Linked DNA regions of Homo sapiens. The protein of the gene in region 2 purifies or fractionates together with the protein of the main gene of each other region. This does not show direct contact. Each region holds a gene or a part of one and is shown on either strand. Other genes may lie near its edges.

Region 1 (3,817 bases), on a different chromosome or scaffold from region 2:
TTTTAGCGTTAAAAAGCAATACGAATTATATTTTTAAAATTACATTTTGAATGCTTCTGCTACATCTTCAAAATTAAATTGTATTTTAAAAATTCTCTTCTTTCAGTGTCTTACAAATGAGTAATCATAGCCATTGGTTCCACCTTGTGACTCTCCCACATGGATTAGCTGTAGCACAACTTGCTTGCTTTCTTTTTTTATTTTTTTGAGACAGGGTCTCGCTCTGTCACCCAGGCTGGAGTACAGTGGCGTGATCATGGCTCACTACAGCCCTGCCTTCCAGTGATGCTCCCACCTCAGCCTCTTAAGTAGCTGGAACCACAGGTGTGTGCCACCATGCCTGGCTAATTTTTGTATTTTTGGTAGAGACGGGGTTTTGCCATGTTGCCCAGGCTGGTCTCAAACTCCCAGCCTCAAGCCATCTGCCTGCCTTGGCCCCTCAAAGTGCTGGGATTACAGGCATGAGCCACCATGCCCAGTAGACACAACTTTCAACCTGGGCTGAAAGACTTCAATTTGCTAAATCTAAGATTCACTCCTGATCCCTTTATTACATCTCTAGGCCGTTTGAAACTACTGCTCCTGTCCATTCTTGAAACTTTCTAACTTCCAGGACGTCTCTCCTGAGTGTCCTCGTCTGCACTCCCTTCTAGCCAGTCCACCAGGCTCACACTAAATGAATCTGCTCCTGTAAGCGCTGCAACAGTAAAACCGATACGGTGAGCGTGGAACCCAAGCTAAGCCAATCAGATTGTCCTTCTAGAGAATTTGGAATTGGGAAGTGGGAAGTGGAAAGACTGGGTCTGTGATGTGAGCTGGCAGAAGTTAGAGTTTCAGAATGGCCTTCCAGAGTGACCACCTGGGGTCACGTGTTATTTACTGCCAAGCGAGAGAAGAGATTAGGGGGAGGGCAGGCACACATAGAAGCATAGGGCAGACACACAGTGAGCAGGAGAAGCCTGGGAGATGAAGGCAAAGAGCACAGCCACACTGACTGCCACCAACTTCCCAGCGACTGGGCCCCAACCTCTGATGAAGACATCTACCTTCCTCTCTAATGACTTCTGTTACCTTGGCAGGCACTTTCTCCGCTACCTTTTCTCCACTTGTCCTTCAAGGTACCCATGCTCCAGCCATACTATTAACAGCCAGGTGGGCACTCACACATGGATGAAAGGGCACCACTCTGCCTATTTCCTGGCCTGCCCCTACGTGGAAGGGACCAGTTTACCAAGATGAAGAGAAATCACTCCCAGAAGTCAGGTGTACTCTGACAACAGGATGACTGACAAAAGGACCACTAATGCCCAGAGGAACCTCCACCACCCACTCAGAGAGGCAAGAGTCTACCCAATGAACCCCAAAGACAATCATGGTATTATCTGAAGTCGAGGTCATGCAGTCTCAAATAATTCTATGTGAAAAATATCAATGGTCCAGTCTATCTAGACAGATATGCCCCAATTTACAGAAGTACAACTATATTGCAAGAAAAATTTACCATGTAGAAATATTGATTTTAATACCATAGCTATGTATAGTATCTAGTCATTCTTACAGCAAAACATGTGTACTGTAAAATTATTCTTTGTAAATCCTCTTCGTGACACACCTATGTGTCCTATAAGACCTTCAAACTCAAGTACATCCAAAACTGAATCAGTCACTTCCTCACCAAAGCCTACTATATTCCTGTCTTAATCTGTTTTCTATTGCTTACAAGAGAATACCTGAAACTGGATAATTTATGAAGAAATTTATCTCTTACAGTTATGGAGGCTGAAAAAGCCCAGGACCACATCTGGTGACAGCTCTCCTGCTGGTGGGGACTCTCCAAAGAGCCCTGAGCCGGCACAGGGCATCACACGATGAGAGGGGGCTGAGCATGTTAACATGCTGTCTCAGATCTCTTTTCTTTTTATAAAGCCCCCAGGTCCCCTCCCATGACAACCCATTAATCTATGAATGGCTCTGCCCTCATGAGCCAAACCTCTGAAAGGCCCCACCTCTCAACACTGTCACATTGGGGATTAAGTTTCAACATGAGTTTTGGAGGGGACAAATATTCAAACCATAGCCAATTCCCAACTATAGTAAATGAGTCCACTCTCCCCTCAATTGCCCAAGTCAATATCATTGACTTCCCCCCATCACAAAGGTCTAGCCACTCTCTTCCAAATACCTCTGGAAACTCTCCACTGTGTACCTGCATTGTCTCAACTTAACTCAAGCCACCATCATCTTCCCTGGAATTCTACAAAAGCCTCCAGTCTTGCTTCCCTCTAATCCATTATCTACTCTAATGTAACCTTCTAAAATGCAAAATGGATTGTTCTTACCCTACTCACAAGTTTTCAATGGGTCCCAATCATTTTCAGTGTAAATTCCAAATTTATTCATTGGCTTTAACCAAAAAAAAAAGTGCTCATGTCTATTTGCCATGTAGCTATCATGTCCCAGATATACTTTGTTAAATCAAATGTTCCATCATACATGTAATACAGGTACATGTAATCTTGGCAAATACAAAAAAGATTATTTAAATCACCCGACATCCTACCGAATTCCACAATTCTTAAGATTTCCATCTAATTTCTTCTACATATTTTTGCCATTCATAGGTTTTACTGGAAGGCTGCTGGGACTTTTTTTGGGGCGTTTTCATCATATCAGGTATACAATTGTGTATCCTGATTTCCTTCCACTTAACACTATCATAAGCATTTTAATATATTTTCTTCATAAACGTTTTTAATGGCAATGTTATTTGCCACTAAATATATGATATAGGGGATGTATCATAACCATTCTGCAAACTGTGCCCATAAATATAATTCTACAATATACATATTTTGTGCAGAAAGCTTTTCTCTGTATTTAAAAATATTCTTTTGATGGTTCCTAGACCATCAAGAAATGTAAATAATTTTAAGACTCTTGACACATATGGCCAATGTAACATAAGAGTGTGTCATTTTTACCACATCCTTTTAGGTACTAGGCACTGTATATTTTTGTCTAAATCTAGACCTTCATGAAATTGGTGAGAAATTGTAACATCTTCCTTACAAAAGTAAATGCCCATTGTAAAAAAAACTGAAGCAATGCAAACACATGTGATATGAAAAACCAGTCTCCCCTAGGCTTTTCCCATGAAGTAATCAGAATTAAATGTTTTCAGGTATTCTAGTCTTTTTCTAATTCTTATTCAGAATATATATATATACACACACTCACCCTTCATTATTTTGTTTTGTATCTTACAAAAAATGAGATTAAGCTTGCTTTTTTGGCTCAACAGTATATTCTAGACATCCATACAGGCTATGTCAGTACATACAAATCTACCTCTCTATATAAAAAACTAATAGGCTAGACATGGTGGCTCATGCCTGTAATCCCAACACTTTGGGAGGCCAAGGCGGGAGGATCACTTGAGGCCAGGAGTTCAAGACTGGCCTGGGTAACGTGGTGAGACTCCGTCTCTACAAAAAAAATTTAAAAATCAGCCAGGTGTAGTGGTGTGTGTGTGTGTGTGTGGTCCCAGCTACTTGAGAGGCTGAGGCAGATCACTTGAGCCCAGGAGGCTGAGGCTACACTGAACCACATTCCGTACCACTGCACTCCAGCCTAGGCAACAGAGCAAGACCCTGTCTCAAAACAAAACAAACAAAAAATCCCACAAAAAACAAAACGCTACTTGATATTCCACAGTATATGGGTACCAAAATTTATTGTGATTATCTTCAATTTTTCATTATAAATGACGCTGCAATAGACATTGTTTATATTAACGTATGTTCTCCTATGAAAATAG
Region 2 (3,724 bases):
TCCCCTGCTCTGTGTTTTCATAATCTAGTATCCAGGAAGGGGTAAGCACCCTGCGTGTATCTGGTTGTAACTAACTACTCACAACTGCACTTGCCTGTGTGAAAACGTGAGCTTGTGATGATGCGTGACGTCAGGTAGGCGTCCCTGACTCTCCGTAACCCAACTTTGCCTGTGCCTTGGGGATTCCTCCTTGCAGGTAGGAAGTGAGGGGTACAGGTTCCAGCTCTGGGCTGAGACATGATTCAGGGTTCCACCCTGACCTGGGGCTCCTGGAGTCTTGGGGCCCTGGAGGGTCCCGTCCACTGCCCAGACTGACCCAGGTCCTCGATGAAGCCTCATTATGAGGACTGGGGGAAAAGGACCCAGCCACTTCCTGGGGAGGTCGGAGACCCCAGGGTGAGCGTCAAGGTAGCCTCAAAGATGAGACGTCACCTCTTGAAGGCAGCCATGAGCCTTGGGTGGGGACGTCACTAGAGGAAGTTCAGGCCCTATTTTCGGAGGAAGCAGTTGGAGACCCCATAGGAGGAAGGGCGATGGGGCAGTAGAAAGTCGCGGTGTCCCCGCCCCCTCCAGCAGCTACGCGCCCCACTCTCTTGGAGACGCTAGATCAGTCCCTCCGGGCCTACTAAAGAAACCACGCAGGGCTCAGATCCGCTCCATCATCATCATCATCATCATCATCATCATCTCCAGGTTTATTTCCAGCTCCCCCGCAACCCCTCCGGACCTGGAGCCGCCTCCGCCCGCGCTGTGCACGCGCTGCGCGCGACCTCAGGGCTGCACACGACAGCAGCGCGCTCCGGTCCAGTCCATGCCCGCGCACTGGCAGTGACATGTGGTCTCGGCGCGCACATCCCACGAGCCACAGGCGGAGCCACAAGTGCAGCCGGTGACGGCGAAGCCTGCAGCCCGGAACACAGGAGCGTGGACTCTGAGCTGGGAGGCTGAGGGTGGGAGCGGGAGGGGGGTGGGGAGCGCGGAGGGGGGTTGGGGGGGCGGGGGTGGGGACGGGGACGGCTGGAGGCTCCAACCACTGAATGGGCACTGGAGGCAGGGAGTGAGGGTGGACACCAGTGTCCAGATGGTGGGCGGAGAAGGCTGGGAGTCAGGACCAAGATCCTAGGGGAGTAGAGGCTGGACACGGGGAACGTGGCGGGGAGGGGGCATTCCCAGGGGACTTGGAACAGAAATGGGCGCCTGGACAACAGTCTCCTGCACTCACCTCGGGGGCAAGTAGCCAGGTCCCCCCTGGAGGTGACGCTCTGGCACTCCAGGCCAATGCTGCTTATTGCCCTAAATACTGGGGGGCAGGAGGAAAGGAGACAGGGGGAGCTGTGAGACCAAACGGTCCCTCCCCCATCCTCCCCTAGCCCTGTTGGTTTGGAGCTAGGTCCCTGTGGGCATAGGAGCTCACTGGCCTCCAGGACCCTGTCTTGAGTTGGGTGTTTTGGAGTAAGGGAAGGTTTGGAGTGAGAGCGGGGATTGGGTTTGGAGCCGTGGATAAGGTGGGGACAGTCGGAGGGGTTGGGAGTGGAGTTGGGGTTGAATTTATGATCTGGTTGGATTTGAGGATGAGATTTGGTGAGCGCTGGGGCTGGGTTGGAGTCAGGTCTGTGCCAGGGATCAGTGAGGTCTCTGAGACCCTTGGGGAGCTTGCCCAAGTGGGGGGTCCTCACTTAGGGAGCCGGCGACCTCCTGGATCCTCTCATTGATGGCTTCTTCCATGGAGCACAGGGTCTTGCTAGACACCAACAGCCCCAGGACAGGGAGGAGGAGGAGACAGAGAGCTTTCATCCTGCAGGCGCTGAAAGAGGGAACCAAGAGACCCACAGCTGGATCAGCCCTGCCCTGTGGGGAAGATCCGGCCCATGGAGGGAGTAGGATCTGCCCCTGGACCTGGACCCCTGTCCCCCCATGTGGGGGACAGGGATGGAGGCTCAGCCTTGACCCCAGCCTCCCCGCTGGTGCCATGGCAAGCGCAGGAGCAGCTGTCACTTACCCTCTCGGTGGGCTCAGCTAACCAAATCCGGCACACGAATTCCTGCACCGCAGCTCTTTCTTTGAGGCCTCTTGGGGTGGGGCTTCCTGGCTTGGCTAATAAGTCCCTGGGCCCCCAACCCTCCGGTCCCACATCCGGGGCCAAGAGGAAGCCCCTGAGCAGACAGTAAGGGCTGGAGGAGGAAGGGAGCCTTCCCACTTCCAACAGGGCCTCCGTCTTCATGTCCAGAGACTGGTCAGGAGGTGGTGCCCCAGGGATAATGCCAGGGGCTGTGGTCTGAGGAACAGGTAGACAAGCAGAGTTTTGCATGCAAGGGTGGCTGATGCAAACATGACAAAATTAATGCCTCTTGCTAGGCATGGTGCGGACAAGCACTTGTAGTCCCAGCTACTAAGGAGGCTGACGTGAGAGAATTGCTTGAGCCCGGGAGTTCGAAGCTACAGTGACTTATGATCACAGCACTGCACTCCAGTCTGGGCAACAGAGCAAGACCACTTCTCTAAAATAGTAATAATAATTATGTCTCTGGGTGAGAATGACATACCACATTCATACCCAAATGCCCATGAGCAATAGAACTGGTAAATAAAATCATGGTTTATGGCCGGTGGCTCACGCCTGTAATCCCAGCACTTTGGGAGGCCAAGGCGGGCGGATCACTTGAGGTCAGGAGCTTGAGACCAACCTGGCCAACATGATGAAACCCTGTCTCCATTAGACATACAAAAATTAACTGGGCGTGGTGGCGTGTGCCTGTAATCCCAGCTACTTGGGAGGCTGAGGTGGGAGAATCACTTGAACCCGGGATGTGGAGGTTGCAGTGCACTGAGATCGTGCCCCTGCACTCCATCCTGGATGACTAGCTTGGGCACCATAGCAAGACTCCATCTCAAAAAGAAGAAAGAAAAATCATGGTTTATTCCATCAATGGCATCACCTGCAACAGAAGTTGGAAAGCCATTGCTCATGGGCCAAGGTCCAGCTCATGTTTCTTCTTGGACCACCCATGAGCTTGGAATGGTTATTACATTTTTATTTGTTCTTTGTTTCCAGTACAACGGGCCTTTTTGTGGTAAAATACATATAACATACAACTTACCATTATAACTTACTTTTTTCTTTTTTGAGACGGAATCTTGCTCTGTCGCCCAGGCTGGAGTGCAGTGGCGCGATCTCGGCTCACTACAAGCTCCGCCTCCTGGGTTCACGCCATTCTCCTGCTTCAGCCTCCCAAGTAGCTGGGACTACAGGCGCCTGCCACCACGCCCAGCTAATTTTTTGTATTTTTTTTTTTTTAGTAGAGATGGAGTTTCACCGTGTTAGCCAGGATGGTCTCGATCCCCTGACCTTGTGATCTGCCCGCCTTGGCCTCCCAAAGTGCTGGGATTACAGGCGTGAACCACCGTGCCCGGCCTTTTTTTTTTTTTTTTTGAGACGGGGTCTTGCTATGTTGCCCAAGCTAGTGTCAGACTCCTGGCTTCAAGTAATCCTCCCACCTTGGACTCCCCAGTAGCTGAAGCTACAGGTATGCACCATCTTGTTCCATTTTAACCATTGCTTTTGTTTGTTTCTTTGTTTCAGAGTCTCACTCAGTTGCTCAGGCTGGAGTACAGTGGCTCAATCTTGGCTCACTGCAACCTCCACCTCCTGGGTTCAAGCAATTCTCCTGCCTCAGCCTCCCGAGTAGCTGGGATTACAGGCGTGCACCACCATGCCCGGCTAATT

What was found.
Region 1: the proteins of RETN (region 2) and ZNF664 purify together in Homo sapiens (affinity purification with mass spectrometry; one large-scale study listed by BioGRID and IntAct). This does not show direct contact.

The regions. Positions count from the first base shown.
Region 1 is NC_000012.12:123,979,537-123,983,353, reverse strand, and holds part of ZNF664 (zinc finger protein 664), read right to left. Parts: intron 1-3,817. UniProt on the Homo sapiens protein: May be involved in transcriptional regulation.
Region 2 is NC_000019.10:7,667,397-7,671,120, reverse strand, and holds RETN (resistin isoform a precursor), read right to left. Parts: upstream 2,073-3,724; 5' UTR 2,000-2,072; intron 1,849-1,999; exon of another isoform or gene 1,805-1,848; 5' UTR 1,795-1,804; coding exon 1,677-1,794; intron 1,301-1,676; coding exon 1,223-1,300; intron 945-1,222; coding exon of another isoform or gene 903-944; coding exon 772-902; 3' UTR 666-771; downstream 1-665. UniProt on the Homo sapiens protein: Hormone that seems to suppress insulin ability to stimulate glucose uptake into adipose cells. Potentially links obesity to diabetes. Promotes chemotaxis in myeloid cells.